4 linked regions of the Homo sapiens genome follow. The protein of the gene in region 2 interacts with the protein of the main gene of each other region in a biochemical or structural test. Each region holds a gene or a part of one and is shown on either strand. Other genes may lie near its edges.

Region 1 (3,477 bases), on a different chromosome or scaffold from region 2:
CGGGCTCAGGCAATCCTCCCACCTCAGCCTCCTGAGTAGCTGGGACCAAAGGTGCACATCACCACACCAGGTAGTGTTTTGTATTTTTTGTGAGATGGGGTCTCACTACATTGCCCAGGCTGGGTTCAAGAGATCCACCCCTCAGCCTCCCAAAGTGCTGGGATTATAGGCGGCAGCCACTGCACCCGGCAGTAGCGTGTTGAGTAAACACTCTATTCGTTAGCATTCCCCCTCCCATGAGCCTCGGGAGACACCGGGCTTTGGAAGTGATGCTGGCGGTCACAGAAGCGGAGATCAGGGCAGGGCTGGCATCCAGTACGGGATGGGGAGAGAGCCCTGCAGAGGGCTCTACACCATGGCTCCAGCGACGCGATTCCCTGTGGGGACCCACCTGCCCTGCAGCTGCCACACCACCCCAGGCCAGCAGGTGTGACCCCCTGGTCACGGGCCACCCCAGCCCTGAGCACAGAGATGGACACACATCCCGGCCCACACAGACACAAGCAGCATGAAATTCAGAAATAAAGATATAATGAAAGACCTTTTTTTTCCACAAGAATAGGTTAAATACATACAATTGGTAAATTATAGAGCAATTCTGAATAAACTGATCAAAAAACGAAGAAAGATGAGCGCGTGCGGGCTGGGCTTGTCTCACGCCCGCCTCCGGACAGGGTGGGTTTCTTGCCGGCGGCCGTGCCCCACCTCGACGCGATGCACCTGCGGTACATCCCACCCAGGCGAAGTCACGGAACAGACGCAGAAGAGGGGAGACGGCCGAGACCCGGGGAGCCACGCGGCCCGAAACAGCCCCTGCTGGCTCTGGCGTCTTTCCGGGCCGGGGTGCCCCTCTGCCATGTTCCGTGGACAGCGAACACCCGGGCCGGAGCCATTACCTACTGTGAAGGCCAGCGCAGGGGGCACGGGATGTGAGGGAGGCCCCCGAGTGCACGGGGCCTTCTGCAGGGACTCCGGTCCTCCGCCTTCCACCAGCATAGGAGGACGGGCTTCTGGCCCACCGGACATAAGGAATTCAGAGAAAAGGCTCTGCAGGTACCCAAGGCCCCCCAGCCTGCAGCACCGAGGGGCGCCCAGGAGGCCCGGCCTGCGGAGGGCACCGGCAGCCCCCGCCCCGCTCGCGGCCGCCGCAGTCAAGGGCGACTTGTGGTTGGAGTGAGCAGGCTCCTGGCTTCCAGGGCAGCAAAAACCCCCAAGCACTTTCTAGAAGGAATGTGTTTCATTCTGACTGTAAACACATTTGTAAATGCTGAGACCAAACCCCGACTTATGGATCCTGAGCCACGGCCGTCACTGGCCCCGCTAAGCCTCATCACCACACGGCCAGGCCAGACCAGCACCCGCGGACGCCAGCTCCACCCCTGGGCCCCGAGGTTCCCACCCGCTGAGGAGCCGGGAGCTCCGAGAAACGCGCCAGGAGCTCCAAGAACGCAGGAGCAGCCCGCGGTCGGCAGCAAGTTTGCATTTCTAAGTGACCACATCTAATAAAATGAAAAACGGGTTTACTAAAACAGGTCCAAAGACAACACGGAAGATAAGCTACAAATCCAGCACACAAGGCCCACCCACACCAGCCCCAGCGGCCCGTGGCCAGGACAGGGCTGAGGCTCCAGTCTCCTCCAAAGCCCAGTCACACATTTTGGTTTTTGCTTCCCCTTTCAGGTTTTTAAAAGCTAAACCTAGGAGCCTGGTGGGTCTGCCTGTGCTGGGCAGTGTGTCCAGCCTGCCGAGGTCACGCTCTGGTGCGCGGTGCCCTCAGTGGCGCCTTGGGTCTCGGCGCCTGGGCCTCACTCCTGCGCGATGCTCCTCAGCACGTACTTGACCGTGTAAGCAAAGGCTGCAAACCCAACTATCACAAACAAGTTCGCCAGGGCGCCACCCAGGAGTCCGTGGTGCCGGTTGGCCTGCTGGAGCCCTGCGAGGTTTGGGACGGCCCCCGGCGCATGCCCGTTGAGCAGCTGAATCCCGTTCTGGACGAGGTGCGTCTCCCCGTCTGGAACCACGTCTGGCAAGGGGAGAGTCTGGGGTCTGCTACTGAGTTCGTCTTGTGCTTTCTGTTTTTGTTTAATCTCCTAAGAGAAAAACAGCGAGAAAAGCAGCTGGTCTCCAACCAGCGCCTTTCAGGACCAGCACTCCCGTTCTCAGGAGTCCACGGTCCACCACCAAGAACCAAGCCCTAGGCTGTGTCAAATTCCGACCCCATCTCACAGGTGAGGGCCCGAGCGTGGCCGGCCTCACTGGCCCTGTGCCCCTTGGCCCCTGCACTCAGGCAGACCAGAGCAAGGCTGAGCCACAGAGGCCAAGACCAGGGAGCACTCCAGTCCCAGTCCCACATGGCAGCCGCTGTGCCTCCCAGCTATCCCCAGACACCACCCAGCTGGCTGCTCAGAACCACGAGCTCCACGCCCCTGTGGGACAGGCCCAGCCCCCGGCCCACCAGCACAGCTGTCCGCAGGCCACCCCCCAGAGCCCAGGCTTTCTGCCTCCCCTGCCTCGGGGCTCCTGGGGGAGAGGAGCCATCCCCTGGGGAGGTCTGCAGCTTCAGGACACAGATTTTACTCTTTGGAAAGAGGTGAAACTCAAGTGTTTTAACGCAGGGGAAGGCGAAACCCACTTCCGTCTTTCTTACCTCCACGACTTCAGGAAATAATTCACAAAAGACTTTATCTTTCAAATTAAATGCTAAACTCTGCACTGCCAGTTGTCTTTTCTAGGAAGGAAGGGAAGGGAATCAGCCAGAAAACTAATTTCAATTCTTTCAAGATTCTAAAAACAGATGATTTCAAAGTCAAGGGCTGCAGTCTTCGTGTTGCAGAAAGCATTTAATAAGCACACTCTTCACAGCAAACTAACTTATAGTCTTACAAAGCCTTCTTAATCTTCCCCCCATCAATTCATGATATCACACTTGATTCCTATTAAAGACAGGGAAAAACAAGCCACCAAAGCACCGGGCTCCCCGCTGACAAGGCCCGGGCCGTCTGTGCAACTGGTACCGCCTTGGCCCACCCCAAGATCCCAAGGAGGAGCCCCTGGCGGGTGTGGATGAGGCTGGATGTGGATAAAAGCAAGACCGAGAGGCAGCGGGGAACACGAGGCCACAGAGCAAAGCAGTCTCCACGACAGTGCCTGGGACAAGGTGGGAACTCCACCCAGCCCCGCCTACTGAGAAGAAAGGCAGCTGCGGCCGGGCGCGGTGGCTCACGCCTGTAATCCCAGCACTTTGGGAGGCCCAGGCGGGCGGATCACGAGGTCAGGAAATCAAGACATCCTGGTTAACACGGTGAAACCCCGTCTCTACTAAAAATACAAAAAAAAAAATTAGCCGGGCGTGGTGGCGGGCGCCTGTAGTCCCAGCTACTTGGGAGGCTGAGACAGGAGAATGGCGTGAACCCCGGGGGGCGGAGCTTGCAGTGAGCCGAGATTGCGCCACTGCACTCCAGCCTGGAGACACAGCGA
Region 2 (7,034 bases):
AATTCAAAAAAAAAAAACAATGGAAACATCTTCTTACCACTGACAAAATAAATCTTCGGAGATGCCTATATATTGGCAAATGGATCATTTCCTGTACTGGATTGAAATCTGGATCATTCAAATTCCTTAGAAACCACAGGACACCAGGTCGAAGTACCTGCAAATATATTTTAAATACTATGAATATTCACCAATGTCTTCAAATTCTATATATGAGCTAAAACATTAACAGAAAGATAAGCACTTAGAATTATTCTGGCATCTAAAGTGGGCCCCAGAAAATGTACATGGTATTCTTAGGAAAGTAAGTTCCTAAACCAGAATCTTTATGAAAACTACCCTGTGTCTGATGATGTCCTTTGACATCATCATTCACTAGGGGCGGGGGAAAAAAAAAACATTCATTGGGTCCAATGTGTCAAGAAATCTAGACCTCTGAGACGAAAAATAAATACAACCATTACTATCGTAAAAGGGTTATGTTGCAATTTATAAATGTACTAAATAGACGGTCTGATTTGCCTTCCCCCTGTAAATGAAAATCATCACCCAAGAGGCTGCAGGTGATGGGGTAAAGGAGGAGTCTGGGTACTAGTTCTATGTGGTCCAAACTCACTGAGTTACCCTCTGTGTAACGCATCTAATCTGCCCAAACTTCTATTCTCCATCTCCTAAACAAGGGGTTACAGTGTGTGATTTCTAAGGTTCTGCCTAAGTTCCACATATTAAAATTTTATATCAACAAAAACCACCACACTGATAAAATGAAAGAAATCATTATAAAGCATTTTATTCACTTAATGAAGTAATCTGGAGTTCACATATAATTACATTTTTAAGAAACACATTTCTGTACTTGCTTTAGTTCTCAATCAGTTGTTTCAAAGAAAGAATGAAAGCTTTAGTTACCAAGAGAATTTACTGAAATTATACCGTATGATTCAGGAGAATGCTTTGGTCCCTGACCCCTCCTCCTCTTCCTCAAATCTTTCAAAGAACAAAGTACACCAAGAGCAGCATTCAGCCTTTGTGCTTTTGTGTTCCCTTCTCACTGGAATTGTCAACCTGGTCCTCCACACCCTGCACATCTCCATCACCCGTCTCCGTGTAAACCAACATTTTCAATGCTGTATTCATTTTCAGGCTATAAAATCGAGGAGAACAGGAATTGTGCCTTTGTTTCTCACTGAAACCCCAGAATGCAGTATAGTGTCCGGCACACAGTGACCATTCAGTATTTGGGGAATGACTGAGCTTGAGATGTACACTAATCAAATACTCAACTGCTTTCATCATCTTCAAATCACTAAGAACCAGATTAGAAACATAGAACTAATAAAGGTATCAGGCCAGGCACAGTGGCTCACACCTGTAATCCCAGCACTTTGGGAGGCCAAGGTGGGTGGATCATTTGAGGTCAGGAGTTCAAGAACAGCCTGGCCAACATGGTGAAACCCTGTCTCTACTAAAAATACAAAAATTAGCCGGGCATGGTGGTGGGTGCCTGCAGTCCCAGCTACTTGGGAGGTTCAAGCAGGAGAATCACTTGAACTTGGGAGGTGGAGGTTCCAAGATCATGGCACTACATTCCAGCCTGGGCAACAGAGCAAGACTCAGTATCAAAAAGTAAATAAGTAAATAAATAAATAAATAAATAAATAAATAAATAAATAAATAAATAAAGGTAATCCATCAGGCCAGTGAACTGGAATCATAAAGGACCCTCATTGTAATTCTATACTTAAGGCGCCTAAATCAAAATGATTTTACATGTCTGATCCTGCAAAACCATATCCTTTTGGTTATTTCCAGCAGTACAGTTCCTTGAAGTCTGAGACACACTCACATCATACAAAATTCCAAGAGTCTGTATTAGAGGATGGCTAAAGTATATACGAAGTGTGACAAAATGAGTACTCTTATCTTTTTCCTCAGTTGAATCGTCTTTCAAACTCAGACAGAAATATTAAAACTTGCCAATTATGGAGACAAACAACTGAAACAGTTTAAAGTAATTAAGTCAAAGTCCCCTATAAGTTATTCCCTCTTAGAATAAAATAGTAGAGAATATGATTTAGGTAGGAAATCATCATAGCCTTTGAGACATGACTGGTGGTGAAAGCAAAAGTCCTTTTTATAAATGTACAGCATCAGCATTTCCCTGTGGACTTACCTCTCTCAGTAGTAGAATGAAGGAGGCAAAGTAGAAGACATATACCATTCCCACTAGCCAATGCAGAAACATGGTAGTACCTGGAGCCGACTGAAAGCTCAGTTCTCGATCTTTCAGAGTAGCATCAAACATTTCCTGAGACAAAAGAGGACAGGTAAGAGAAATCTGTGCCCCCTACATTTGCCAAGTTAACATTTTCATCTTCTAGGAAATAAATAATCAATATGCATGCAAGGAACAATTCCTAGAACTGCAGTTCACTTAATGTCATTCCACGGTGTCACAGAACTATATACAAGATTGGCTACTGCTTCAAATATAAAGAATGATAAACCAATTAGTAAAAGCTTTATTAATACTGATTCTATTAAAGAACTATTTTTGATGAATGTAAAAAATTTTCTTGGTTATAGGTCTGCATTCTTGAGAAGTTTTAAAAGTAAGGTATGGGAGGGTAAATGTTATCTCAGAACCAAAGGCAGCTTTTCTACACATAAAATATTTTTGAAACAATCAAAAACTGATTATCACTAACAGCAATTAAAGAGTATAATCAAGACTGAGCATATTAGTTAAATCAAATGATTAGGGTTAAATTTATTACTACAAAGACAGTTTCCTTATCAAATTATTCTCTATGTATATAATGTCTTGGCATTATCTACACAAATTTACGACAGCAAAATGGGCAATAAAATCCTCCACTATTAGAAAGATTCCACCCAAACTATCCTGACATCAAAAATTTGCACAAAGCCTCAAAAACTCAGGTACTCAAGAAAAATTAACATTAAGATCCTATACTGATACACATGCCAAAAGAATAAGCAAATTATCAAATATTTGCTTTCCTTTAAAAAGAATACATGCTGAAGACTTCCTCTTTTGAAGCCCTTAAATTATGCTATTATACAATAATGAATACTCAACTTACCAAGGAACAGATATCCAGCCACCAACCACAAATGAGAGGGAATACTCCAATTTCTACCACCACTAACAAAGAGACCTTAAGTGAAAATAAAGGTCATCAGTATCACCCAAATGTAGGAGAAATCATTTCCAATTTTAAGTTATAACAGGAATTACCTTAACAACAATATAGCAGACTCCCAGTAAGCGACGAGATCTATGAAATTTCACAAGAGTTGCCAAGCCCTACAGCATCAGGTCAAGGAAAAACTGAGTATTTAAAGGTACAATGAAACAGGTAACTACTTAGCCAACATTTAGTATTTTTTGACAGAATTAATTTATTTCACATTTTGTCCACACTGACCCTTACTGCAAATACCTACAACTTTTACTAAGAGGACAAGGATAGACAAGTTTCGCCATTAATGAAGAGTTCTTTGGTATGAATAATATTAGTGTACACCCAAGTTGGTTCATTAAAGGATACATGACAAATTATCAGTGTTATTGCTAAAAGTATATACCCAACTATGGTTGTGATTAGGCCTTCAAAATGAGATGCTTGGACCTGGAAATAAGAAAAAAGTAAATAAAATTTAATTTTACAACATGTTCTACACCCCGGTTTTCCCATATTAAACAATCTAAATGACTAAAAGAGAATTGTTGAGACAATTTATAACCAGGAAACAACTGTAAAATCTGCTTTGGATGACATCTCTGAAAACCAAATTCTCTCACTGACTGTTATATATTACTAAAAAATGAAGAAAAATTAAATAACACTTTACCCAAGGAGACAAAATAACAGTAGAGTGAATTAAATTTTACAAAAACAAGAGCACTGTAATACAACAGCCTGCCCTCTACTCTCACTCTAAAGCAGATTTGCTAAAGGCTAACCACTGAAAGCAGGAACACACTGCCCAAGTCACCCACCAGCTGGGTAATATCCTAGCCACCTCATTTCCTACCACTAGAAGTAACTGTTCAAGTTTCCCTTGCTCTGCAAATCTGTCCCATTCTCAACTTATAGAAAGAATTTTGAAAGTAACAGTGCCTGTCGGTATTTTTTGATTCCTGAGTTTCAGATAGCAAGTGGCAAAAGTTTGGAAAGTCAAAATTTTTCAAAACACTTACCTGAACCTTTCAAGTTCTTGCATTCAACTAGTGAGAATCAGAGGTGTACTAAATATGAGAAGACTTCAGAACGTGATCTCTCAGATCTCAAATATACAAACTGAGCATATGATCCCAGATAGTCAGCTTTTCCATAAAAGACTAAATTGTTCTAGGGCCCCAACAGAGAAGTAATAATCCTTCCAAAATTTATTTACCTCTGGAAAATACTGATAAAATGTCAAAACTAAAGCACTCTAGAAAACACTACAACCCGTCATTCCAAAATATTCTACCCTTTTTAAATTGATTGATATATTGTTACTTTTCTAAATTCAGCAGGGGGCACCTGGGGAAAGGGAAAGAAGAGAACATACAGGTTCTTGAGATGGACAGAAAATCAGCCTGTGGGAAACTTTCCCACGGTATGCCTCAGGCCCACCCAGCTGACTGGATTTCAGAGCACATTTTCATTAGTTGGCAACATGACCACTATCTCTTGAGCCACTGTTATTTTTTTTAAAAAAGAATGAGACGGTATTGCCTAACTATTCCCTTGCATAATGCCAATGAAGAAATGATGTAACTCTTTAGAATACTATTTTATTAATAATCACATTTGGGAGTAATGAATGAAAGTAACTTTGTAAAAGTATTATACTCACGTGTTCTTCAAATCCCAAACCAACAAGGGAGAAATGACCAATATGGTAAGGGCAAAATGCTAAAAAGGGGGAAAAAATTCCATGAAAACTCCGACATCAAAACAATGAACACTCCTACTACAATTCCCCACTAAAAGGAACTAGGGCTTCTTGGAGAAATGAAAGATTCCAGAACTAGGCTAAAAATACACTGCCTAGGACATTCTCTGTAACTAGAGAACAACAAAGCTATTAAGGTCTAATAGGGCCATGCCAAATCAACACAGAAACCATTGTGAAAACAGGCCAAAGAGAGGATAATATGAGCATCAAAAAGAATAATGACCAAAACTGATGGAAAAACACTGAACATACACAAATCCATGAGTTTATGATGCTCAAAAAAGGAAAAGTCCAAAATAATAATCACGAAAAGAGAAAAAGCAACATCAAAGAAAACACTTTGATGTTTTGGAAGCAGTTAGCACACCCATGTGAATAGTTAATACACCAATTCCTTATTCTGAAAACCAAAATTAATGGGAAAAATATGAGCATCTGTCCTACTTGCCCCGGACAGACAGGTTTGGGTTGACTGAATAGTCCCAAATTGATAAGAATTTCTTCTTCTTTCAGAAAAGTCAGCCAATAAATATAAAAAATGACTGTTTAAAATATCACTCCCAACAGATTATTTTATAATGGTAAAGGGAAAAACAAAACCTAAGATTAGAGGCCCAGGTTGATATCAGCTGAATCCAGTGATAAAAGTGGATAATCCAACATCATGTATCTCAGCTCCTCACATATACTATTAATAGGCACAGTGTGACCAGTGATGGATTTGTCCCAGATGTATTCAACCTGAATCTAATAAGGCCCTTAGATCTGACTTCCAGTTTAAGAGAAATATGGGAGACAAAGGATAAAGGCAGAGGACATCCAGGAAGCAGATGGACAGATGTAAAACATGACATGCTGCAAGAACAGTTAACCTAATCCCAGCAACAAATCAATGGCCAAATAGGGTGAGTTGGGGGAAGCAAAGAGAAGAGTACTCTAGATTAAAAGACTAATAACTTATAACTTAACAACTAAAAGTAATATGTGGACCTTATTTGGGTCTTCATTCAAAGAAACCAACTGCAAAATGGTATGTAAGGGACAACCCAGAGAGTTTGAATATGATGGATTATTAGGAAATACCAAATTCTAGTAATTTTGTAAGGTGAGATAATGGCATTATAGCTAAGTATGAAAGTATTTTTAAAACCTTTATAGCAAGAGAATTTTTATAGTCTTCTTTTTCCTCAAGTCTTTCTGGCTAAATTTTACTTCATTCCTAATAATAAAATATAGTTATCTTTTCTTTATGGTAGAAATAAATCGACAGCGCAGTAGATTACCAGGGGAGTGGGAAACTCAATCATGAAGACAGAAGTCAGAGTGAACCTACTAGGGATCTGGCCTCTAACCCTTTCTGACTATTTCATGGGTAAGAATATTTTTGAACATGTATTTCCAATATATTTAAATTTATTTATAAATTATATATACGTATTAGTTTACTAACATATTGTGTGTAATATAAAGCAGAAGAAATTTAATAAGGTAAGGAAAAAAACTGTATGTTGAATTTTGCCTATTTTGCTCTCATATCCCAGTCTGAAGATGACTCAACTAGGCCCCTGGGAGGGGCAAGTTTTAACTCTATTAGCAGATGTATTAAATAATTATTAACCTTAAATACCAGTTGCAACAATCAATTTCCATCCCATTACACACAAACTAATGGAAAGGCATCCTGAAATTAAGGACAATTTCTCAGGATTGTCACCTTCTAGTGGAAGACCACAGCTTTGTCAAATTATATTTCTGCAAAGCATATGACCACAAGAGCCAAAAAACTGCCTGTAGAAAACTTCCAACAGAGCAACCCATGCAAGAAAAAAACAGGAGGGTGTTTAATCCCAATGATTAAAAGAAAAAGTATGTTCCTAATGGAAGAAAACTTGTTTCATTTCAAAAGATTCCAAAAGATTCTAACTATATAATAAAACATAAGTTTACTAAGAAAATTCTTTTCGCAATATAAGCTCAGGAGGTTGGATTAGAAAAAGCTTTACTTAGATTTGATTTCTATAAATCAGAGTTCTTATTTGTATAATTCATGTTTTAAATGT
Region 3 (7,745 bases), on a different chromosome or scaffold from region 2:
CTTAAAGTTTAAGATAGGTGCAACACAAAGTATCTGAGACAGGACTCAATCAATTTAGAAGTTTATTTTGCCAAGGGTAAGGACACACACATGGGAGACAGGTCTGTGCCTTTCTCCAAAGATGATTTTGAGGGTTTCAATATCTAAAGGGGAAAGGAGTGGATACTGGGGAGAGGAGAAATTGTTAAGGGGTGTGGGCCAGTAAGAGGCAAATGGTTGCATTCCTTTGAGTCTTTGATTAGCCATTGACATGTGAGATGGGGGGGTAGAGGAATAGTCACGCATTCATCTAGCTCAGTGAATCTGCATTTTTAAATAAGATAAAATAAACATAGGCCAGAGGGAGCAATCAAATATTAATTTGTCTCAGGTGAGCAGAGGGATGCTATTGTGTTCTGTCCTATGTCCCACATCTGTGAATATAAGCTATCAATTTACATTGTGAGGATGAAATTCAACAGAACTTTTTAGGGTAAAGATCTTGGGGCCCACAAGGAATTTCCTAGTGGGCAAATTATGAGGGAGGTATGTAGCTTTTTTGTTTTGTTTTCTTTTGAGACAGAGTCTCACTCTGTTATCCAGGCTGGAGTGCAGTGTCTCCATTATAGCGGTCCCCAACTGCAGCCTTGACCACCCAGGCTCAAATGATCCTTCCACCTCAGCCCAGCAAGTAGGACTACAGGCGCATGCCACCACACCCGGCTAACTTTTGTATTTTCTGTAGAGACGGGATTTCACCATGTTGCCCAGGCTGGTCTCAAACTCCTGGGTTCAAGTGATCGCCTGCCTCAGCCTCCCAAAGGGCTGAGATTACAGGCATGAACCACTGCGCCTGGCTTATGTAGCTTATCTTTGAATAGGAGGTTTGTGTGACACAGTCCCCAGCTTGACTTTTCCCTTTGGTTCAGTGATTTTGGGGTCCCAAGATTTATTTTCCTTTCACACAGGTAAAGTCCGGAGAAGAAGCTGGTGAGAAAGAGACAGGAGCCAGATGCTGAATGACGGTAAATCGAATCCTGGAGGGAACCAAACAAAACCCTGAAAACCTCCAGGAATCTCAGGTTGGCCAAATCCTTGGTAATGTCCTGCCACTCCCCAGGACTGCCACACTGTACACACCCTATCTAATGGCAACCTACTGCAGGGGCCAAGGAAAAACGTCTCCTTTGTCCTCTGGAGGTTCACTGAAAAATCAACTGGCGGAAAGCAAATTAACAGGTCAAAAGATATACATGTATTATTATAAAAAGACGTAAATGTATTATTGGGCATGTGGGGGAACCACAGAGTAATTACTCCACCTCTCAGTGGGCTCAGAAGCTTATATACCCCTCCTGAGGTTACAGAAAGTTTGGGGGCTCAGAGAATGGTGGTAAATCAGGATTTAGTGGCAAGACAGAAATGGAAACTTGGCTAGCAAAAGTCATTTCATTATGTAGATTGGGGTCCCCAAACTTTGGGCCATTTACACTGTGGCCATTTACATTCCTGTTAGGAATAGGGCCGCACAGCAAGAGGTGAGTGGCGGGTGAGTGAGCAATACCGCCTGAGCTCTGCCTCTTGTCAGGTCAGCAGCTGGTATTAGGTTCTCTTAGGAGCAAGAACGCCGCTGTGAACTGCACATGCAAGGGATCTAGGTTGCGGCTCCTTATGAGAATCTAATGCCGATGATTTAAGGTGGAACAGTTTCATCCTGAAAACCATCCCCCTGCCCTGGTCCATGGAAAAATTGTCTTCCATGAAACCTATCCCTGGTGCCAAAAAGGTTGGGGACCGCTCATGTAGATGAAACCTCACAGGTAGTAGCCATTGGAAAGAATAGATGGTTGATGTTTCTTTCAGACCTTTAAAGGTGTCAGACTGTCCATTAACCTTTCCTATATCTGGACGAGGGAAAACCTCAGAGAGCACCTGGCTGCATCAATGCAGATTTTCTCTGTATATTGCAAGCCTCTCTCACACACACACACACACACACACACACACACACACACACACACACACACACCAAACAGCTTCGTAGGACTACTTCCGCCTGCAGGTCCTCTGAACAGCCATATCTCAAAATATGTGAAAGAAGTATATTTTGGGGTAAAATTTTTTGGTTTCCTTCACTACACATCTCACCTTGGGTGTTATTCTTGCCACTGGTTTCATGTTCTCAGACTCACGAAGCTGAAAAACAGTTGGGGATGCAGAATTTGATGTGCTTCATCCTTTGTGGGCTTGAAGAGTCTCTTGTTCCCAAAATTATTCCCTGGGGCCCTCTGCTTCACAGGCAAATAAAAGCAAAAAGAAGCTTGCTCAGCCTTAAGTGAGGAAATGACTCACAGGTTTAAAACAAAAAAGGAAAAGATGGAGGCATTTTGTAGGTGAAAGGGCGAGAGTCTTCTGATGCAAAGTAAGAGGTCATTAGAGCAGGGATGGATTATCAATAAGCAGAGCAAACATTTGCTTAGGGAACAAACAGCGCCGGAACACGAAAAAGAAAAGAAAAACATAATAATTTAATTACTTAAAACACTGAAGATGGCAACATAGGAAAAAACCCAAACCAGAACATTTTTGGACTTCATAACATTTTATGGTTCAGTATTTATGGCTTAGTATTTTATTTTGAATTACATGTGGGGAGGAGGGGTAAAAATACTTTAATTTTTCTTGCTAAGTAAGTACTATTATATATTCAGGTATAATGGGATAAGGGATACCATTTTAATGGGTCCGTTTGGAGCTTTAAATATGATCAACAGTATCTGTGTGCATGCAAGATTGGTTAAGAAACTGGGTTAGACCGAGTGCGGTGGCTCACGCCTGTAATCCCAGCACTTTGGGAGGCCAAGGCGGGCGGATCACGAGGTCAAGCGATCGAGACCATCCTGGCCAACATGGTGAAACCCCGTCTCTACTAAAAATACAAAAATTAGCTGGGCGTGGTGGCCCGCGCTTGTAGTCCCAGCTACTCGGGAGGCTGAGGCAAGAGAATCACTTGAACCCGGGAGGCTGGGGTTGCAGTGAGCCAAGATCGCGCCACTGCACTCCAGCCTGGCGACAGAGCGAGACTCCGTCTCAAAAAACAACAACAACAACAACAACAACAGAAAATGAAAACAAATTGGGGTAAAAGTCTCTGAGAGCTTCCTACAGTTACAACTCCAAAGCTTCACAAAGCCAGTCCCTCCTGGCTGGAGCCAGGGACTCCAACGCTGTGGGCCTCTCAGGGGGCGGACCCGCGGCGCCAGCGCCTGCTCCCTTCCCACCTCCCAACCCTCCTCTCTGCTGTATCCTCCCTGCGAGCTGTGTCGGGGGCCGGGGGGGGGGAGTGGGGGCCGAGGCCGGACAGCTTCATCTGGAAATCCCCCGCCACTCACGGGGGAAGAAGTCCCACGAGCCCTATCTGGCCTCGGGCGCTGGCGCAACTTGTCTGCTCAAATAATCTCGTTCCAAATCTGTGCGTTTTACACAAGAAACAAACAAACAAAACAACAACAACAAAAAAACACAACTGGGACTCAGATGACGTTTTAAGTTGTCTTTGAAAAACAATGCATAACCCTGCACGTATAAAGTTGCCTATGTCACATAACCCTAGGCAGCTGTCATTCTGGAGTGATCTGGAGTTAAGTTTTTTGTTTTCTTTTTCTTTTTTCTTTTCTTTTTTTTTTTTTAGACAGGGTCTCAGTCACTCAGGCTGGGGTGCAGTGGTACAGTGGCGCGATCTCGACTCATTGCAGCCTCGACCACCTGGGCTCAAAAGATTCTTTCACCTCAGCCACCCACCCGCCTGCCCCCAACCCCGCTAAACAGCCGGGACTAGCTGGGACTACAGGCGCGCGCCACCACGCTGGGCTGCTTTCTTTGTATTTTGAGAGAGACGGGGTTTCGCCATGTTGGCCAGGCTGGTGATTCGCTCGCCTCGGCCTCCCAAAGTGCTAGGATTACAGGCGTGAGCCACCGCGCCCAGCCGCCACAAAACTTTTAAAAGTTATTACTTCGCTAAAAATAACAGCGTAGAAGCCATTGTGCAGCGCCACGCGATCTCGGCTCACTGCAGCCTCGACCTCCCAGGCTCAAGCGATCCTCCCATCTTAGCCTCGCAGGTAGCTGGGGCCACAGGCGCACGACACCACGCTGGGCTATTTTTTAAAATAAAATAAAAATCTTCGCCAGGCTGGTCTCGAACTCCTAGGCTCGACAGATCCTCTCGCCTCAGCATCCCAAAGTGTTGTGATTACAGGCGTGAGCCACCGCTTCCATTTTTAGAGTTCTATTCTGAGGACTAACGCCGTTCAACAAGTTGGTGTGAATTTGTTTGCATTTTTCAAAACCCCAAAGCCGGCCTGGGCGCCATCCCCATTTGCCCCGGGCCTCTCAGGACCCCGACCACAGGCAGGACCCCGACCACAGGCAGCGCCCCGACTCCAGGCAGCGCCCCGACTCCAGGCAGGGCTACCTCCAACTCCCAGCCTCCCCAGGCCGGGCCCCCGCCCGGCTCCCGACAGGCTCCTCTCCCCGTGGCGGGGCCCCTCGCCCAGGCAGCACACCCTCTCAACCCGACCGGGCCCCCACCACTCTAGGAGGGCCGGCGTTGGGGGAGGGCGCCGGGACGTGCCCGAGGGTGACACTCGGGCTTGGGACAGGGCGTGCTGCCGCGGGTCACGTGCTGCGGAGGCTTGGGGAGGGGCGGCGAGGCGGGGTTTATAGCCCGGGCGCCCGCGGGCCCCACGCTTTGACCGGGTCGTGGCAGCCGGAGTCGTCTTCGGGACGCGCCTGCTCTTCGCCTTTCGCTGCAGTCCGTCGGTGAGTGCGCGCCCAGTGGGTGCCCCAGCGAACCGGTCCCGGGCCCCCAGCGGCGCCCAGTTGGGGTGGGGGGCTCCCCGGGGCCTTGGGACCGCTGCTCTGCTCCCCGCGGGGCTCAAAGGTGGACGGGACGCGGGGGTGATGGTCCGAGACCCCCCGCTCGCCTCGCGGCTTCCAGGTCCTGGCTGGGTAGGGGCGGTCTGCTGAACCCGCGCTTTCGACCCTTGCCTTTGTGCGTTGAGGCTTCTTTCCTGCCAACAGATTTAGGGCGATTGCTATCGAATGTCCCTTGGCCTGCTTGGGTGGTTGTGGGAAAACAATATTTGTCGAAGGGACATTATCGAAAGGGAAACGCGTTAGAAAACCGCATTTTTTTTTTGACGGAGTCTCGCTCTGTCGCCCAGGCTGGAGTGCAGTGACGCCATCTAGGCTCACTGCAACCTCCGCCTCCCGGGTTCAAGCGATTCTCCTGCCTCAGCCTCCAGAGCAGCTGGGATAACAGGCGCCCGCCACCACGCCCGGCTAATTTTTGTATTTTTAGAAGAGACGGGGTTTCACCACGTTGGTCAGGCTGGTCTTGAACTCCTGACATCAAGCAGTCCACCCCCCTCGGCCTCCCAAAGTGCTGGGATTACAGGCGTGAGCCACCGCGTCCGGCTTGGCTAGCATTTTTGTTAACAGATACTCGGAGAAACAAGAGAAGTATGTCAACAACTTTACTTCTCCCTCCTGAGTATTGCAAGTTTACACATAAGCTCTGAAACTTTGCCTCAAAAGAGGGAGTGGGGTTGTGTGGGTGTGGGTCTTTCAGGAGGGGGACCTGGAGAGCTGGAGAGAGGAAAGAAGTGCAGAAGACTACAGGGAGCTCACCCTGCATTTTTCTCTACTTGTAATCAGCATTTGCTTGGGTTGGGGAATGAATTTGGGAGAGTCTTATCCCGGTGTTCTGAAATAAGTCTCTTTTCTGCAGATTTCTTTCTCCAGGAAGAAAAATGGCATCCGTTGCAGTTGATCCACAACCGGTATGAATTTTGAGTAGCCTTTGTCTACTTTCTCTCCTTTTGTGTTTTGAGAGATTAATAAGCATACCCTCCCTACTTTGATTGCAGAGTGTGGTGACTCGGGTGGTCAACCTGCCCTTGGTGAGCTCCACGTATGACCTCATGTCCTCAGCCTATCTCAGTACAAAGGACCAGTATCCCTACCTGAAGTCTGTGTGTGAGATGGCAGAGAACGGTGTGAAGACCATCACCTCCGTGGCCATGACCAGTGCTCTGCCCATCATCCAGAAGCTAGAGCCGCAAAGTGAGTTCTGATTTTTCAAGATGCAAGTCAAGGGACTGGTCAGTGGCGAGCCCCTGAGCTCACAGCAGTAACATCTGGAACTCCTCAGCCCTTCCTGGGGCATACACTGCCTTTACCTAGAAACTTTCAGGTGACCCTCATTACCGTAAGAGGACTGTTTCTTTTCTTTTCTTTCCTTTTTTTTTTTTTTTGAGATGGAGTCTCACTCTATCACTCAGGCTGGAGTTCAGTGGCGCAGTCTTGGCTCACTGCAACCTCTGCCTGCTGGGTTCAAGTGATTCTCCTGCCTCAGCCTCCCGAGTAGCTGGGACTACAGGCTCCCACCACCATGCCCAGCTAATTTTTGTATTTTTAGTAGAGACGCGGTTTCACAATATTGGCCAGGCTTAACTCCTGACTTTGTGATCCACCCACCTCTGCCTCCCAAAGTGCTGGGATTACAGGCGTGAGCCACCGCGCCTGTCCACAGAAGGCCTGTTTCATAGCTTTGGCAGATGTTTATGATCCTTTAATTAAAAATCCCCCAGAGGATGGGCACGGTGGCCTGCACCTGTAATCCTAGCACTTTGGGAGGTCTAGATGGGAGGATCGCTTGAGGCCTGGAATTTGAGACTGCTCACTGCAGTCTCTGCCTCTCGGGCTCAGGTGATTGTCCTGCCTCAGCTCCCTGAGTAGTTGGGATTACAGGCATACACCACCATGCCCAGCTAATTTTGTATTTTTAGTAGAGACAGGGTTTTGCCATGTTGGCCAGGCTGGTCAGGAACTCCTGACCCCAGGTGATCCGCCCGCCTCGGCCTCCCAAAGTGCTAGGACTACAGGTGTGAGCCACCATGCCTGGCCATGAATGAGTTTTAGAAATGGATAGTGGTGATGGTTGTATAATGTTGTAAATGGACTTAATGCCACTGAATTGCACAGTTAAAAATGGTTGAAATGGTGAAATTTGTTATGTATATTTTACCGAAATAAAGAATAGAAATGTCATACTCCATGAGAAATCTCATACTCTCATACTTAGTAGTCACTCCCCATTTCCTAACAACCACCCTGAGGCAGCTACTCATCTACTTTGTCTTTATAGATTTGCCTATGCTGGATATTTCTTATAAATGAAATCATAAAATGTGTGGGTTTTTTTGTGATTGGCTTCTTTCGTTAAGCATAATGTTTTCAAAGTTAATCTGTCTTGTCACATCATATCAGTACTTCATCTCTTTTTATTGTTGAATAGTAATTTACTGTCTAGACAGACAATATTTATTCATTCTTCAACTGATGGATGTTTGGGTTCGTTCTACTTTTGGAGATTATGTATAATGCTTCTGTGAACATTTGTATACAAGTTTTTGTGTGGACATGTTTTCAGGTTTTTTTGGTATATACCCAGGAGTGGAATTGCTGGGTTATATAATAACTGTTTAAGCTTTTGAGGAGCTGCCAGACTGTTTTCCAAATCAGCTGTACCATTTTACATTCCCACCAACACTGTATGGAGGCTCCAATTTCTCCACAACATGAACTGCTTTTGAATAAAGATTTAAATCATTCTTTCAAATGGTTAAGCCAGGGACTTTTAGGATTATAAGGAGCCTTTAGAGACCAGCCATTCCAACTCTGCTACTTCCTAAATGAATTTG
Region 4 (7,034 bases), on a different chromosome or scaffold from region 2:
GCACTGTGCACCTAGAAAAGCCAAAGACACTCAATGCCCACCATGAAAGTAGCTGAAGGGGGTGGGTGTGGGAGGGCTGTACCCTACAAAGCCACAGGGGCAGAGCTGCCCAAGACCATGAAAGCCACTCCCTGTATCAGTGTGCCCTGGATGTGAGACACGGGGTCACAAAGGAGACCATTTTGAGCTTTAAGATTTAATGACTGCCCAGCCGGATTTCGGACTTGCATGGGGGCCTGTAGCCCTTTGTTTTGGCCAATTTCTTCCATTGGTAATGGGAGTATTTATCCAATGCCTGTATTTCCATTGTATCTTGAAAGTAACTAACTTGCTTTTGATTTTACAGGCTGCTAGGCAGAGGGGACTTACCTTGTCAGAGATGAGACTTTGGACTTGGACTTTTGAGTTAATGACGAAATGAGTTAAGACTTTGGGGGCCTTGCTGGGAAGGCATGATTTGTTTTGAAATGGAATGGTTTTGAAAGGAACATGAGATTTGGGAGGGGTAGGGGGAGAAATGACATGGTTTGGCTTTGTGTCCCTACCCGAATCTCACCTTGACTTGTAATCCCCAAAGTGTTGAGCGAGGAACCTGGTAGGAGGTGACTGGATCATGGGGGCAGTTTCCCTCATGCTGTTCTCGTGATAGCGAGTTCTCAGGAGACATGATGGTTCTATAAGTGTGTGGCAAGTTCTTCCTTGGCTTGCTCTTCTCTCTCCTACCGCCTTGAGAAGAGGTCTGTTTCCCTTTCTGCCATGACTATAAGTTTCCTGAGGCCTCGTCAGTTATGCAGAACTGTGAGTCAACTAAACCTCTTTCCTTTATAATTACCCAGTCTCAGGTAGTATCTTTATGGCAGTATAAGAACGGACTAATGTACCGATTAACCGTTTAATGAACCCACAACCTTGGGTAGAACAAGGCCTACCCAAGGAAAAATTATTTCACTCAAAATACCACTAACACCTGCTGAGAAGCCCTGATCCAGGAAACAGAGGTCCTGAAGAGACCTAAGTGCTGTCACAAGGGTGTGCTGACACCCAGCAGTGAGAGAAGGCAGAGTGGCAAGGAGGGGCCAGCAAGGCAGGCCAAAGGCAAGTGCTGGCCCCAAGGGCCAAGTGCATTAAACATTTCAGGGGTGGGTGGGAACTGAATGTGAATGAGGTCAAGTACCAAGCCGACTAAGACCTTGGATTTCACAAGCCACACCCTGATGTTCTCCCTTTGTGTCTCTTCATGTGGAGTAGATCAGGAGAAATAACCACAGAACCTAATTTGCTAGGCTTCCTACACCCAGTCATCTAAAATCTAGTCCCATTCTTGTGTCTCAAGCCAAACCGCCTAATTATAAGAAAAAAATAACAGATTACGGCAGATAGACTGTAAACTGCTAAGCAGGTGGGGTGCGGGAGAAACACAATGTCAGTGGGCAACTAAGTAGAGGCCTGGCAGCAGAACACACAAAAGCTTTACAAATCACCTTCGTGGGACCATGAAGAAGAGCTCGTACCAAAGAGAGCTGGCTTTATTCTTCATCTGGAGTTCCCCTTTGGCACTCCCCTGCGTGACACCCTCCCTTAGGGAGGGGAAAGGGTGGTCTAAAAACTGCAGCTCCAGACCTGCTCCTGGCAATGCAGGCTCAGCACAGAGACCTGCCCGGGTGTGCGCTGGCCTTCCCGCCAGCTTTGTTATTCAACAGTGGCCTCTACTGGTCAATAAAGAAGTGCAGCAAATGAGTTCAGAGGCTGGAGGGAATGGTTCAGGGCACTTATTTTTTCCATTTTGTTTTTTGCTTCCAAAGCATATACACGCGTACACAAAATAATATACAGTTTCATGTTTACTGATAAGAAACAAGTTCAAAAAAAGAGACGAATCTTGGTATCAGGGAAATTTTCAGAGGCCATTCCTTGCCACTTAAAATAGTGGCTTAACAAATAGCTACCACACAAAGTGAAATATAACCTTTGACCCAGCAATTCCATTTCTAGGAATCCATCCCACAGATAACATTGGTGAAGATAAAAAATGTATACACAGGCTATTCATTTCAGGACTATTTGTAAAAACAAAAAGAAATTAAAAAGAACTTGAGTGTCTATCAACAGAGGACCAGTCAAATTATGATACATATACCAGTGGGGTACTTTGCAGCTATAAATACCTCTACATGCTAGTACAGAACAAACTTCAGGACATATTACATGAAAAAAAAGAAGGTGGAGAAAAGTGTGTGACTAGGGCCTTTAAGAGGTAATTAAAATTAATGTGGTCATTAGGGTGGACCTTAATCCAATCTGACTAATATCCTTTTAAGAAGAGATGAGGACACAGGCATAGAGGACAGAGCCTCAGAAGAAACCAGCCCTGCCCTATCCTTGATCTTGGACTTCCAGCCTCCAGGACTATGAGGAAATACATTTCTGTTGTTTAAGCCGTGCCCAGCCTGTGTGGTAGAGCAGCCCTAGCAAACACAGTGCTGAAACAACTGCACTGCCATTTACAAATAATTTACAAATAAACCTTGGCCTTTATCTCATACCATATGGAAAACTTTGATATGGATCCCAAACCTAAATACAAGAGCTGAAACTATAAAACATCTAGAAGAAATCATAGGAGAAAATCCTACTGCCACCTGATGTTTGGCAGTTATTTCTTAAATATAACACAATAGCAAGAAATATTTTAAAAGTCAATAATTGAATTTCATCGAAATAATAAAAACCCTTCTTTTTTTGTTTTTTTTTTTTTTTGAGACGGAGTCTCGCTCTGTCACCCAGGCTGGAGTGCAGTGGCGTGATCTCGGCTCACTGCAAGCTCCACCTCCCAAGTTCACGCCATTCTCCTGCCTCAGCCTCCTGAGTAGCTGGGACTACAGGGGTCCGCCACCATGCCCAGCTAATTTTTTGTATTTTTAGTAGAGAGGGGGTTTCACCGTGTTAGCCCGGATGGTCTCCATCTCCTGACCTCGTGATCCGCCCACCTCAGCCCACAAAGTGCTGGGATTACAGGCGTGAGCCACTGCGCCCAGCCAAAGAACTAAAACTTAAGAAAATCAACACAATTTTGAAAGAAGCAAAGACTCAAGTCACTTTATCTAAAAAGACATATGGATGGCAAATAAACACGTGAAATGATGCTCAACATCACGAGTCTTATGGAAATGCAAATGAAAACCTCAGTAAGGGCCGGGGGCTGTGGCTCATGCCCGTAAATCCCAGCACTTTGGGAGGCGAGGCAAACTCCTGAGGTCAGGAGTTAGAGACCAGCCTAGCCAACATAGTGAAATCCCGTTTCTACTAAAAATACAAAAATTAGCCAGGTGTGGTGGCACGCGCCTATAGCCCCAGCTACTTGGGAAGCTGAGGCAGGAGAATTACTTGAAGCCAGGAGGCAGATGTTGCAGTGAGCTGAGATCATGCCACTGCACTCCAGCCTGGATGACAGAGAGAGCACCTCAAAAATAAAAAATAAAAAAAAATAAATAAATAAAACAAAACCTCAGTAAGACTGCTATACACCCAATAGAATGGCTAAAATTTTTAAAACTGGAAGGGCGCAGTGGCTCGCAGTTGTAATTCCAACACTTTGGAAGGCCAAGACGGGCAGATTGCTTGGGCCCACGAGTTCGAGACAAGCCTGGGCAACATGGCGAAACCCTATCTCTACTAAAAATACAAAAATTAGCTAAGCGAGGTGGCATGCAACTGTAATCCCAGCTTCTTGGGAGGCTGAGGTGGCAGGATTGCTTGAGCCTAGGAGGCAGAGGCTGCCATGAGCCATGACTACACCACTGCACTCTAGCCCGAGTGACAGAGTGAGAACCTGTCTCAAAAAAAAAAAGAAAGAAAGAAAGAAAAAAGAAAACAAAAAACAACTGGCCACGCGAAGTGTCAGCAAGGAGGTGGGGCAACGGGAACACTTAATACACTGCTAGGGAAATGTGAACTAGAGGAAAACTGGCCGTTTCTTTAAAAATTAAACACACACTTCCCATTATAACCCTGGTTATTTACACAGGAGAAATAAAAGCATATATCCACAGAAAGACATGTACATTTAGGACATGCACACAGGGGGAAGATGGCCATGCGAAGATGGAGGCAGAGATTAGAATTACACTACCTCAAGCAAGAGAATGACAATAAACGCCAAGGATGACCAACAATCACCATTAGCTGGAAGAGGCAAGTAAGGGTTCTCCCCTCGAGCCCTCAAGAGGAAGAATGACCCCATCAACACCTTTATTTTAGATGTCTGGCCTCCAGAACAGTAAAAGAATAAATTTCTGTTGTGCTAAGCCCCCCATGGGCAGCCCACTTCTACCTGGGTCTATCTCTGACACTCCTAGGAAAGGCTGGATGATGAATGAAGACAGAACATCAAGACAAGACAGCAGTTTACAACAATTGAGTTCTTTCCTGGCTCTCCTTTTTTCCTGTTTATGAACCTAGGCAAAATCATCTTGTCTGTTGCTCAATTCCATAAAATCTGTAAAATTAGGGGGCTTGAACAGAATCATAGCCAAGGTCCCACCACCTCTGAATTTCTGCAGTTATATGACTACTCCCAAATACAATAAAGTGTGCATGAACATCTAACCAAATTTATCTAAACCCCTTCTATGTAGAGATTGATTCTGTCAAGTCCACCTTTACACTGGAATGTGCTACCTTAAAATACGTTATGAGGACAAACTAGATGTTAAGATACACACACAAAAAAAACCAGTAAATGATACACAAAAAAAACCCACTAAATTTTATCACATTATTAAGATACAGGAAAAACAAAGTCCCCTCAATAACACACTGTATTCATCTTCTGTCACTGCTGTAACAAATTACCACAAATTTAGTGATTTAAAACAATACTCATTGATGATCTCAGAGTTTCCAAGCGTCAGAAGTCTGGACACAGCATGGGCCAGCTAGTTCTCTGCTCAGAGTCTCACCAGGGCTGCCACTCCAAGTTCATTGAGGTTGCTGACAGAATTCACTTCCACGGGTCTGTTGGTCTGGGATCATTCTCAGCTTCTTGAGGCTGCCCGCCTTCCTTAGGTCATGGCTCCTTCTTCCATCTTCACAGCCAGCCACAGAAGGTAGAGATCTTGTCATATGTTGAATCTCTCTGACCACCCCCATCCTGCCTTCACTGACTGCTTTTGAGCCTTATGTTATTATTGGATCCTTCACGGTAATCCAGAATAATCTCCCACTCTTTAGGTCTGCTGATTACTAACCTGACTTGCATCTCCAAAGTCCCTCCACCGAAGTACTAGAAAGTGCTTGAATAACAAGGGCATGGGAATCTTAGTGAGGTATGTTTAGAGTTCTACCTTCTACACATAGTCCAAAATTTCATGTTAACATGTAAAAACACACAACACACTTCCGTGACAAACCTTCGGAAATCAACCATTATTTAGGTCTTATTACTGCAAACTAATTGACAATATAATTGAAATAACAGATGAAGCTTCTGTCAGGACAATAAAAGGGAGAACATATCTTTGCTAATGCAAATATCCTTAGAAAATGCAAGTTCAACAATGCAAAGACTGGCCTGAAGCAGCAGCCTGAACTTAATTTCCTATGCAGGGGTTTAATGATTTTCTTCTCAATAAAAATGAGAAGGCCGGGCGTGGTGGCTCACGCCTGTAATCCCAGCACTTTGGGAGGCCGAGGCTGGCGGATCACGAGGTCAGGAGATCGAGACCATCCTGGCTAACACGGTGAAACCCCGTCTCTACTAACAATACAAAAATTAGCCGGGCATGGTGGCGCGCGCCTGTAGTCCCAGCTACACGGGAGGCTGAGGCAGGAGAATGGCATGAACCCGGGAGGCGGAGCCTGCAGTGAGTCAAGATTGCGCCACTGCACTCCAGCCTGGGCGACAGAGCAAAACTCCGTCTCAAAAAAAAAAAAAAAAAAAAAAAAAAAGAGAAAATACCTGCTCACAGTCTAGCCTAACCCTAGAAATAGGGCTAAAATAAAACTAAAACAGAGACACAAACACAAACCAGGATACCAAGAAATGGTAGGTGTTCACACATCTGACCCACCAGCCAGGTTTCCCATGAGGACACAGAAGTAATAGTCCCCCACATCCAACCCTCTGTTCGAGTATGAACATTGTCAGAATCAAAATGGAGTCACTTTCGCCAAACCCTGACAACATAGAGGGAGGTCAAGATGAAGACAGAAAAATCAGCCAGGTGTAGGGGCACATGCCTGTAGTCTCAGCTACTCAGGTGGATTAAGTGAAAGGATAGCTTGAGCCCAGGTCAAGGCTTGCAATGAGCTGTGGTTGTGCCACTGCACTCCAACCTGGGTGACAGAGCAAGACCCTGTCTCAAAAAATAAATAAATAAATAATTATTATTTGCCAAAATATGCTTAATTTTTATTGCTAAAAAATGCTAACAATCATATGAGCCTTCAGCAGGTCATAATCTTTTTGCCGGTGCAGTCTTGCCCGGATATTGATGACTGCTGACTGATCAGGGTGGTAGTTGCTGAAGGCAGGAGTGGCTGTGGTAGTTTCTGAAAATAAGACAACAATTAAGTTTGCCACAGGGACTGACTCTTACTTTCACAAAAGATTGCTCTGTAGTCTGTGATGTTGTTTGACAGCACTTTACCCACAGTGGAACTTCAGTCAAAACTGGAGTCAATACCCTCAAACCCTGCGGCTGCTTTATCAACTAAATTTATGGAATAGTCTCAATCTTTTGTCATTTCAACAATGTTCACAGCATTTTCACCAGGAGTAGATTCCATCTCAAGAATCACTTCTTTGCTCATCTGTAAGACTCAACTCCCCATCTGTTCAAGTTTGATCATGAGATTGTAGCAACTGAGTGACATCTTCAGGCTCCACCTCTAATTCCAGTTCCCTTGCCATTTCTACCACACCTGCAGTTGCTTCCTCCCCTTAAAGTCATCCATGAGCATTGAAATCAACTTTTTCAAACGCCTGTTGTTGATATGGTGACCTCCCATGAATCACAGATGTTCTTAATGCCATC

Evidence for each region.
Region 1: the proteins of MARCHF6 (region 2) and UBE2J2 form a complex in vitro, tested with the Homo sapiens proteins (2 studies listed by BioGRID, with this or other methods).
Region 3: the proteins of MARCHF6 (region 2) and PLIN2 form a complex in vitro, tested with the Homo sapiens proteins (one study listed by BioGRID).
Region 4: the proteins of MARCHF6 (region 2) and UBE2G2 form a complex in vitro, tested with the Homo sapiens proteins (2 studies listed by BioGRID).

The regions. Positions count from the first base shown.
Region 1 is NC_000001.11:1,253,398-1,256,874, forward strand, and holds the end of UBE2J2 (ubiquitin-conjugating enzyme E2 J2), read right to left. Parts: intron 2,729-3,477; coding exon 2,648-2,728; intron 2,091-2,647; coding exon 1,806-2,090; 3' UTR 515-1,805; downstream 1-514. UniProt on the Homo sapiens protein: Catalyzes the covalent attachment of ubiquitin to other proteins. Seems to function in the selective degradation of misfolded membrane proteins from the endoplasmic reticulum (ERAD).
Region 2 is NC_000005.10:10,398,681-10,405,714, reverse strand, and holds part of MARCHF6 (E3 ubiquitin-protein ligase MARCHF6), read right to left. Parts: intron 4,932-7,034; coding exon 4,873-4,931; intron 4,803-4,872; exon of another isoform or gene 4,229-4,802; intron 3,657-4,228; coding exon 3,576-3,656; intron 3,352-3,575; exon of another isoform or gene 3,332-3,351; coding exon 3,263-3,331; intron 3,183-3,262; coding exon 3,108-3,182; intron 2,309-3,107; coding exon 2,174-2,308; intron 1,145-2,173; coding exon of another isoform or gene 1,094-1,144; exon of another isoform or gene 775-1,093; intron 158-774; coding exon 38-157; intron 1-37. UniProt on the Homo sapiens protein: Endoplasmic reticulum membrane-associated E3 ubiquitin ligase that plays a critical role in mitigating endoplasmic reticulum stress, the regulation of cholesterol and lipid homeostasis, and ferroptosis.
Region 3 is NC_000009.12:19,124,474-19,132,218, reverse strand, and holds the start of PLIN2 (perilipin-2), read left to right. Parts: upstream 1-4,726; 5' UTR 4,727-4,800; intron 4,801-5,770; 5' UTR 5,771-5,792; coding exon 5,793-5,822; exon of another isoform or gene 5,823-5,909; coding exon 5,910-6,105; intron 6,106-7,745. UniProt on the Homo sapiens protein: Structural component of lipid droplets, which is required for the formation and maintenance of lipid storage droplets.
Region 4 is NC_000021.9:44,791,796-44,798,829, forward strand, and holds part of UBE2G2 (ubiquitin-conjugating enzyme E2 G2), read right to left. Parts: intron 1-7,034. UniProt on the Homo sapiens protein: Accepts ubiquitin from the E1 complex and catalyzes its covalent attachment to other proteins. In vitro catalyzes 'Lys-48'-linked polyubiquitination. Involved in endoplasmic reticulum-associated degradation (ERAD).